Linked DNA regions of Homo sapiens. The protein of the gene in region 1 binds, or shares a complex with, the protein of each later gene. Each region holds a gene or a part of one and is shown on either strand. Other genes may lie near its edges.

Region 1 (3,500 bases):
TTACAAAAATAAACAGATTGTAATTGCTTTTTAAAGATTTTTTAAAACCATACAAATACTAAATACTTATTATAGAAAGCTCAGACATATGAGAAGGTTAAAAAGATAGTGGTTTGTGGTCCCAGCACCCAGAGATAACAGTTACTACTTTGGGGCCTTGCTGTATTGTTACAGAGTTCCCTTTTGTTTTTTTAAGAATGAAATTTTATAACGTGCTTTTTCAGCTATATGCAATGTACATGAGCTTTCCTTCGCAATAAGTTTATAGCATTTTTAACACTTGTATATGGATAAGCTGCAGTGTATACATAACTAATCTTTTGTTATATATTTAGACTGACTTTTTTTTTCCTATTGTAAACCACTGAAATCAATATTTTTTGGTAAATTTTTAATTGTTCTCTTTGAGTAAATTGCTAGCAGTGAATTACTGGATCAAAGAATGCACTTTTTTTTAAGGCTTTTGGTATGCAGTATTGCCAAATTGCCCTTCAGAACAGTTGTGCAACTTACATTCTCTGCAGTCTTTTACTAATTCTTAACCTATTTACGTATTTATTTAAAATGATGCCCATAGCATCAACCCCGTTGTCCATAGCTATTCATACATCCTAGGAGCTTCAAGAATCTCAATTGAATAGTAGTAAGTAATAACTTAGGTAAATGCATAATAATTATCTAGGTAACATAATTTTTTATTGGGGAAAATTTCTTTGGTTTTTACAAGTTGTAAAGATTGTCGTTGAAATTTCATTTTTACCGTGGATGCAAAGATATTTTTCTAAATCTGGTAATTGCAGTCTTTAAACCAAAGATAACAGTAGGTGGTAGAAACATTCTGTGAAATCCTGACCAGTAGGAATGCTGGAGGTATCACTTTGTGTTGAATGGAAGGAGAAACGAATTGTTGAAAAGGTCAGTTAAGTGTTTCCTTTGCTTGGCCGGATGGGTAAGAAAATAACTGCTTTTGAAGCAGGCTTTTGCCAAAGAAAAAAGATCATTATTAATGAACATCACTATATTTCATATCTACAGTCAATTCATATAAATTACAGTCAATTTTCTTTTAAGACAGCTTGGTTTATTAAAATTTTTAAATAAAAAAGTTTTTAAGAAAAAATTACTTCTGAAGGATAATTCAAGGTGAAACTGCAAATCTGCCTCCTTGTTTTGTTGGGAATTTTTTTTTTTTTTTTTTTTTTTTGAGACGGAGTCTCACTCTATCACCCAGGTTGGAGTGCAGTGGTGCAATCTCAACTCACTGCACCCTCCGCCTCCCGGGTTTAAGCAATCCTCCTGCTTCAGCCTCCCGAGTAGCTGGGATCACAGGCACACACCACCATGCCTGGATAATTTCTGTATTTTTAGTAGAGACAGGGTTTTACCATTTTGGCCAGGCTGGTCTCGAACTCCTGACCTCAGGTGATCTGCCCATCTCGGCCTCCCAAAGTGCTGGGATTACAGCTGTGGGCCACCACACCCGGCCGTTTTGTTGGGATTTTTTTTTTTTAAGATCAAGACATAAATTTAAATGTTGTTTTAATAAATTGTTAAATTATCACATTGATCTGTTAGCAAATCCTCTCAGCTCTGCCTTCAATTATGTTAATAGTCTGTCTAGTTTCTTACCACCTCCACTGCTACTATGCTTACCACATCCAGCCTGTATTATTGCAATTGCCTCCTAATTGCTCTCCCTGCTTCTACCTTATCCCCTACTCCCACAGCTTATTTTCTGTAACATAGATGCCAAAGCAATCCTGTTAAAATGTGAGTCAGATTATGGCACTGCTCTTAAAACCTTCCAATGTCTTCTCATTTCTCTCAGTAAAAGCCAAACTCCTTACAATGCCTGTAGGCCTTACACGATCTGTCCTCCCATAACCTCTGACTTACTCACGTGCTTTTCTCCCACCAATCCACTCCAACCACATTGGGTTTTTTTCTGTTCCTGGAACACACTGAACACACACTAATAGCACTGTTCTTTCCTCTGTCTGAAACACTTTCCTCAGTTATCCCAAGCCTTCTTTCACGTCCTTCAGGTCCTTACTCAAATGTCACATTCATAGTGTAGACTTTCTGAAATTCTAAACCCTCCTCATACAGATATGTCTAAATGTTCTGTTATTTATTGACCCACCAGGACCGGGCAGGCAGCATTGTCTTGAAGGTGCTCATCTCTTTTAAAGCTAATGATATAGAAAAGGCAGTTCAATCTCTGGACAAGAATGGTGTGGATCTCCTAATGAAGTATATTTATAAAGGATTTGAGAGCCCGTCTGACAATAGCAGTGCTATGTTACTGCAATGGCATGAAAAGGTAAGTTATGAATTATAAATCTATATGACTGGTTCTTTTACAATAGGGAATGACAATGACAACCTCTCTCACCTAAATAACCATTTTGATTTGTTGTACATTTTTGTTATTACAAATAAAATGCATGAAAAGGATAGTTCATATTTATGTTTACTAGCCTTGGTCTTAAGAGATTCTGATTCCAACACTTGTGTTTATTCAACAATGATTATTAGTAATTAAACATAATCTTGAACTCTGAATTAAATCAAAACTTTGTAAAAGAAAATAAGCAATACAAATCAAGAATTCTTTCACAGTGACCAAAAGGTGAAAACAACACAAGGATCATAACAGATGAACAGCTAAATTGTGGTACATACATACAATGGAATATGATTCAACCATTAAAAGGAATGACATTCTGACACATGCTATAACATTAATAAACCTTGAAAACATACCAAGTGAAATGAGCCAAACACAAAAGAACTAATATTTTATAATTTTACTTATATGAAATAATCTAGGATAGGCAAACACAAAGGGACAGAAAGTCCTTAGAGGTTACTAGGAAGTAGGGAAAGCAAGGAATAGGGAGTTAGTGCTTAATAGGTACAGAGTTCCTCCTTGGAGTGGTAAAAAAGTTTTGGAAACAGATAGTGGTGATGGCTACAGTACATTGTGAATATAATTAATGCCAATGGATTTTACACTTAAAGATGGTTAAAATGGCAAATTTTGTGTTAGATATTTTACAACTTTTTTAAAGAATTAGGAGTTTGGAGGATCAAGAATTCTTAAATCATGTTTTTCTATTTTCATGTGTATATTTTGCAATGTAAGTAGATGCTGGTACATCATCTGTCAAAAGAGTATAAGTGATTTTGAGCTTTGGGTAAAAAACTGGATAACATGTAAATAGAACCAGTCATAAAAATATTGAGTGTTTGAAGTGTATCTGAGTGAAAACACAAACATAAGAAAAAAGCACATAGTAAAACAATAGTTCCCCCTTTTACTCTAAAATGCACCAATTTGGGTAGTAATTTATATGGCACCCTATTCATGGAACACTTTCTGTTGCCAGGTACCATACTATTAATGTTTTATTTAACCTTTACAACAACCCTGTGAAGTATATAAATATCTTTATCATCCTCAATTTACAGATGAAAAGCTAGCTTTAAAACCCAAG
Region 2 (3,500 bases), on another chromosome or scaffold:
CATTGGCCTTGAAGTAATAGATGGCTTCATCCACAATATCTGTATCTTTTGCTAAGCAGGACACAAGGGAAGGAGCACAGAGAACATTAGCCAAATACAAAACATAACAACTATCAAAGCCATAAAGGGAAAACACATACAACTGTCAACAGTTGTGGAGTTGAATAAAATAAAATGATCCTATTGAAATACAAAGTTTTTAGAAAATATTTATTTGTTTTTTTTTTGAGACAGAGTCTCGCTCTGTCACCCAGGCTGGAGTGCAGTGGCGTGATCTTGGCTCACTGCAAGCTCTGCCTCCCGGGTTCACGCCATTCTCCTGCCTCAGCCTCCTGAGTAGCTGGGGCTACAGGCACCTGCCACCACACCCCGCTAATTTTTTGTATTTTTAGTAGAGATGGGGTTTCACCATGTTAGCCAGGATGGTCTTGATCTCCTGACCGCGTGATCCGCCCATCTCGGCCTCCCAAAGTGCTGGGATTACAGGCATGAGCCACCGTGCCCAGCCTTTGTTTTTTTTTTTGAGACAGAGTTTCACTCTGTCGCCCAGGCTGGAGTGCAGTGGCGCGATCTTGGCTCACTGCAAGCTCCGCCTCCCGGGTTCACGGCATTCTCCTGCCTCAGCCTCCCAAGTAGCTGGGGCTATAGGCACCTGCCACCATGCTCAGCTATATTTTTTGTATTTTTAGTAAAGACGGGGTTTCACCGTGTTAGCCAGGATGGTCTTGATCTCCTGACCTCGTGATCCGCCCATCTCGGCCTCCCAACGTGCTGGGATCACAGGCATAAGCCACCGTGCCCGGCCAAATTTTTTTTTTTTGAGACGGAGTCTTGCTCCGTCGCCCAGACTGGAGTGAAATGGCATGATCTCGGCTCACTCTGCCTCCCGGGTTCAAGCGATTCTCCTGCCTCAGCCTCCCAAGTAGCTGGGATTATACGCATGTACCACCAGGCCTGGCTAATTTTTGTATTTTTAGTAGAAATGGGGTTTCACCTTGTTGGTCAGGCTGGTCTCGAACTCCTGACCTCGTGATCTGCCTGCCTCAGCCTCCCAAAGTGCTGGGATTACAGGAGTGAGCCACCACCCCCGGATTTTCAGAAAATATTTATAGAAAAGTAGTACATGGTTTATTTTTACAGCTTTATTGTTTTCGTAAAACTTATACATGCTCATTAGAAAATGAAATTCAATCAAAACAGTTTTATTTTTTAGAGAGAGGTCTTGCTCTGTTACCCGGGCTGGAGTGCAGTGGTACAATTATAACTCACCACAGACTTGAATTCCTGAGCGCAAGTGATCCTCCTGCTTCAGCTTCCCAGGTAGCCGGGACTACAGGCATGCACCATGAGGCCTGGCTAATTTTTTTCTTTAAAAATTAAATAAAATTTTTAAAGAAAAGTTTTTAAAGATGGCTGGGCACAGTGACTCACGCCTGTAATCCCAACACTTTGGGAGGCCGAGACGGGTGGATCACCTGAGGTCAGGAGTTTGAGAGCAGCCTGGCCAACATGGTGAAACTGCGCCTCTACTAAAAATACAAAAAATTAGCCAAGCATGGTGGCAGGCACCTGTAATCCCAGCTATTCGGGAGGCTAAGGCAGGAGAATCGCTTGAACTCGCGGGTGGAGGATGCAGTGAGCCAAGATTGCACCATTGCACTCCAGCCTGGGCAACGAGATCAAAACTCTGTCTCCAAAAAAAAAAAAAAAGTTTTTTTTAGAGATGCAGTCTCACTATGTTGCCTAGGCTGGTCTCAAACTCCTGGCCTCAAGTGATCCTCCTGCCTCCTGAGTAGCTAGGATTACAGGCATAAGCCACAGCACCAGGCAAAAAAAAAATTTTTAATTGTCACCTTAATTCCCATTTCCCCAAAAATAACTACCATTAGCATTTGGTGAACATTATTCAAGACGTCTCTCAATGCATTTATAAAAAAACACTGAGACATAGACTAACTTTAACTGCTTCCTAAAAATAAAAAGTATTCAGTCGGGCGCAGTGGCTCACGCCTGTAGTCCCAGCACTTTGGGAGGCTGAGGCGGATGGATTGCCTGAGGTCAGGAGTTCGAGACCAGCCTGGCCAACATGGAGAAACCCTGTCTCTACTAAAAATACAAAAACTAGCCGGGCATGGTGGTACGTGCCTGTAATCCCAGCTACTCAGGGGGCTGAGGCAGGAGAATTGCTTGAACCCAGGAGGCAGAGGTTGCAGTGAGCTGAGATCATTCCACCAAACTCAAGCCTGGGTGACAGAGCGAGACTCCATCTCAAAAAAGTAATAATAAAAAATATATATAATTAAATAAAATAAAAAGTATTCAATATAATTTTATTTGAATTTACATATTATAGTTTCAGAAAAAAACTCAATTATTTAGAACATGTTGAGGTTCAGATACACATCTTTCTTTTTATGAAAACTATGACTTAAAATATACTTGTACAAGCTGTTGTAGGTAGCTCTAGACGGACAAAAGCCAGAAATACTGTCTTGACAAAGACAGATCTCATGACACAATTTGTTTGGCAATTTTTTGTTTTTCTTCTTCTTATTTTAAAAAGGTCAAAATCCCAGGGTCTTGATATCTGGCAGTTGGTTTCAGCAGTGCTGAGACAGTTACTTATACTTCTTGTCTATGACTGTTAACGTTCTCGCACAGCAGAAATGCAAAGTAATCTTGAAGCTTTCATACTCTGCAATTCAGTTGTCTTCATCCCAGCTCATTGCCCTGTGGAAGAATTTCAACAGAACTCTAACTCTAGACTTGTGTTCCTTGCAATTTACTTTTTTTTTTTTTGAGATGGAGTCTCGCTCTGTTGCCCAGGCTGGAGTGCAGTGGTGCAATCTTGGCTCACTGCAAGCTCTGCCTCCTGGGTTCACGCCATTCTCCTGCCTCAGCCTCCCGAGTACCTGGGACTACAGGAGCCCGCCACCACGCTTGGCTAATTTTTTGTATTTTTAGTAGAGATGGGGTTTCACCGTGTTAGCCAGGATGGTCTCGATCTCCTGACCTCGTGATCCACCCGTCTTGGCCTCCCAAAGTGCTAAAGTACTGGGATTACAGGCGTGAGCCACCGCGCCACGCCCTATTTTTTATTTATTTATTTTTTCGAGATCAAGTCTCACTTTGTCGCCCAGGCTGGAGTGCCATGGCACAATCTAGGCCCAGTGCAACCTCCGCCTCCTGAGTTCAAGTGATTCTCCTGTCTCAGCCTCCCATGTAGCTGGGACTACAGGTGCCTGCCACCACAGCTAGCTAATTTTGGTATTTTTGGTAGAGACAGAGTTTCACCATGTTGGCCAGGCTGGTCTCAAACTCCTGACCTGAGGCAATCTGCCCGCCTCAGCCTCCCAAAGTGCTGGGATTACAGGCGTGAGCCACTATGCCTGGCTGCAATCTGTTTTCTTATCTGTGAAAGAAAACTGTCTTGGAGGACTCAATATTGTTTCCAAAAACCAGCTAGTTCTTCTAAATGCAATGACAGGAGGGGGCAAAGG

What was found.
Region 2: ARPC5 (region 1) and ARPC3 share a complex: the UniProt entries of both Homo sapiens proteins name them as parts of the arp2/3 complex.

Annotation. Positions count from the first base shown.
Region 1 is NC_000001.11:183,629,284-183,632,783, reverse strand, and holds part of ARPC5 (actin-related protein 2/3 complex subunit 5), read left to right. Parts: intron 1-2,146; coding exon 2,147-2,323; intron 2,324-3,500. UniProt on the Homo sapiens protein: Component of the Arp2/3 complex, a multiprotein complex that mediates actin polymerization upon stimulation by nucleation-promoting factor (NPF).
Region 2 is NC_000012.12:110,440,338-110,443,837, forward strand, and holds part of ARPC3 (actin-related protein 2/3 complex subunit 3), read right to left. Parts: intron 52-3,500; coding exon 1-51. UniProt on the Homo sapiens protein: Component of the Arp2/3 complex, a multiprotein complex that mediates actin polymerization upon stimulation by nucleation-promoting factor (NPF).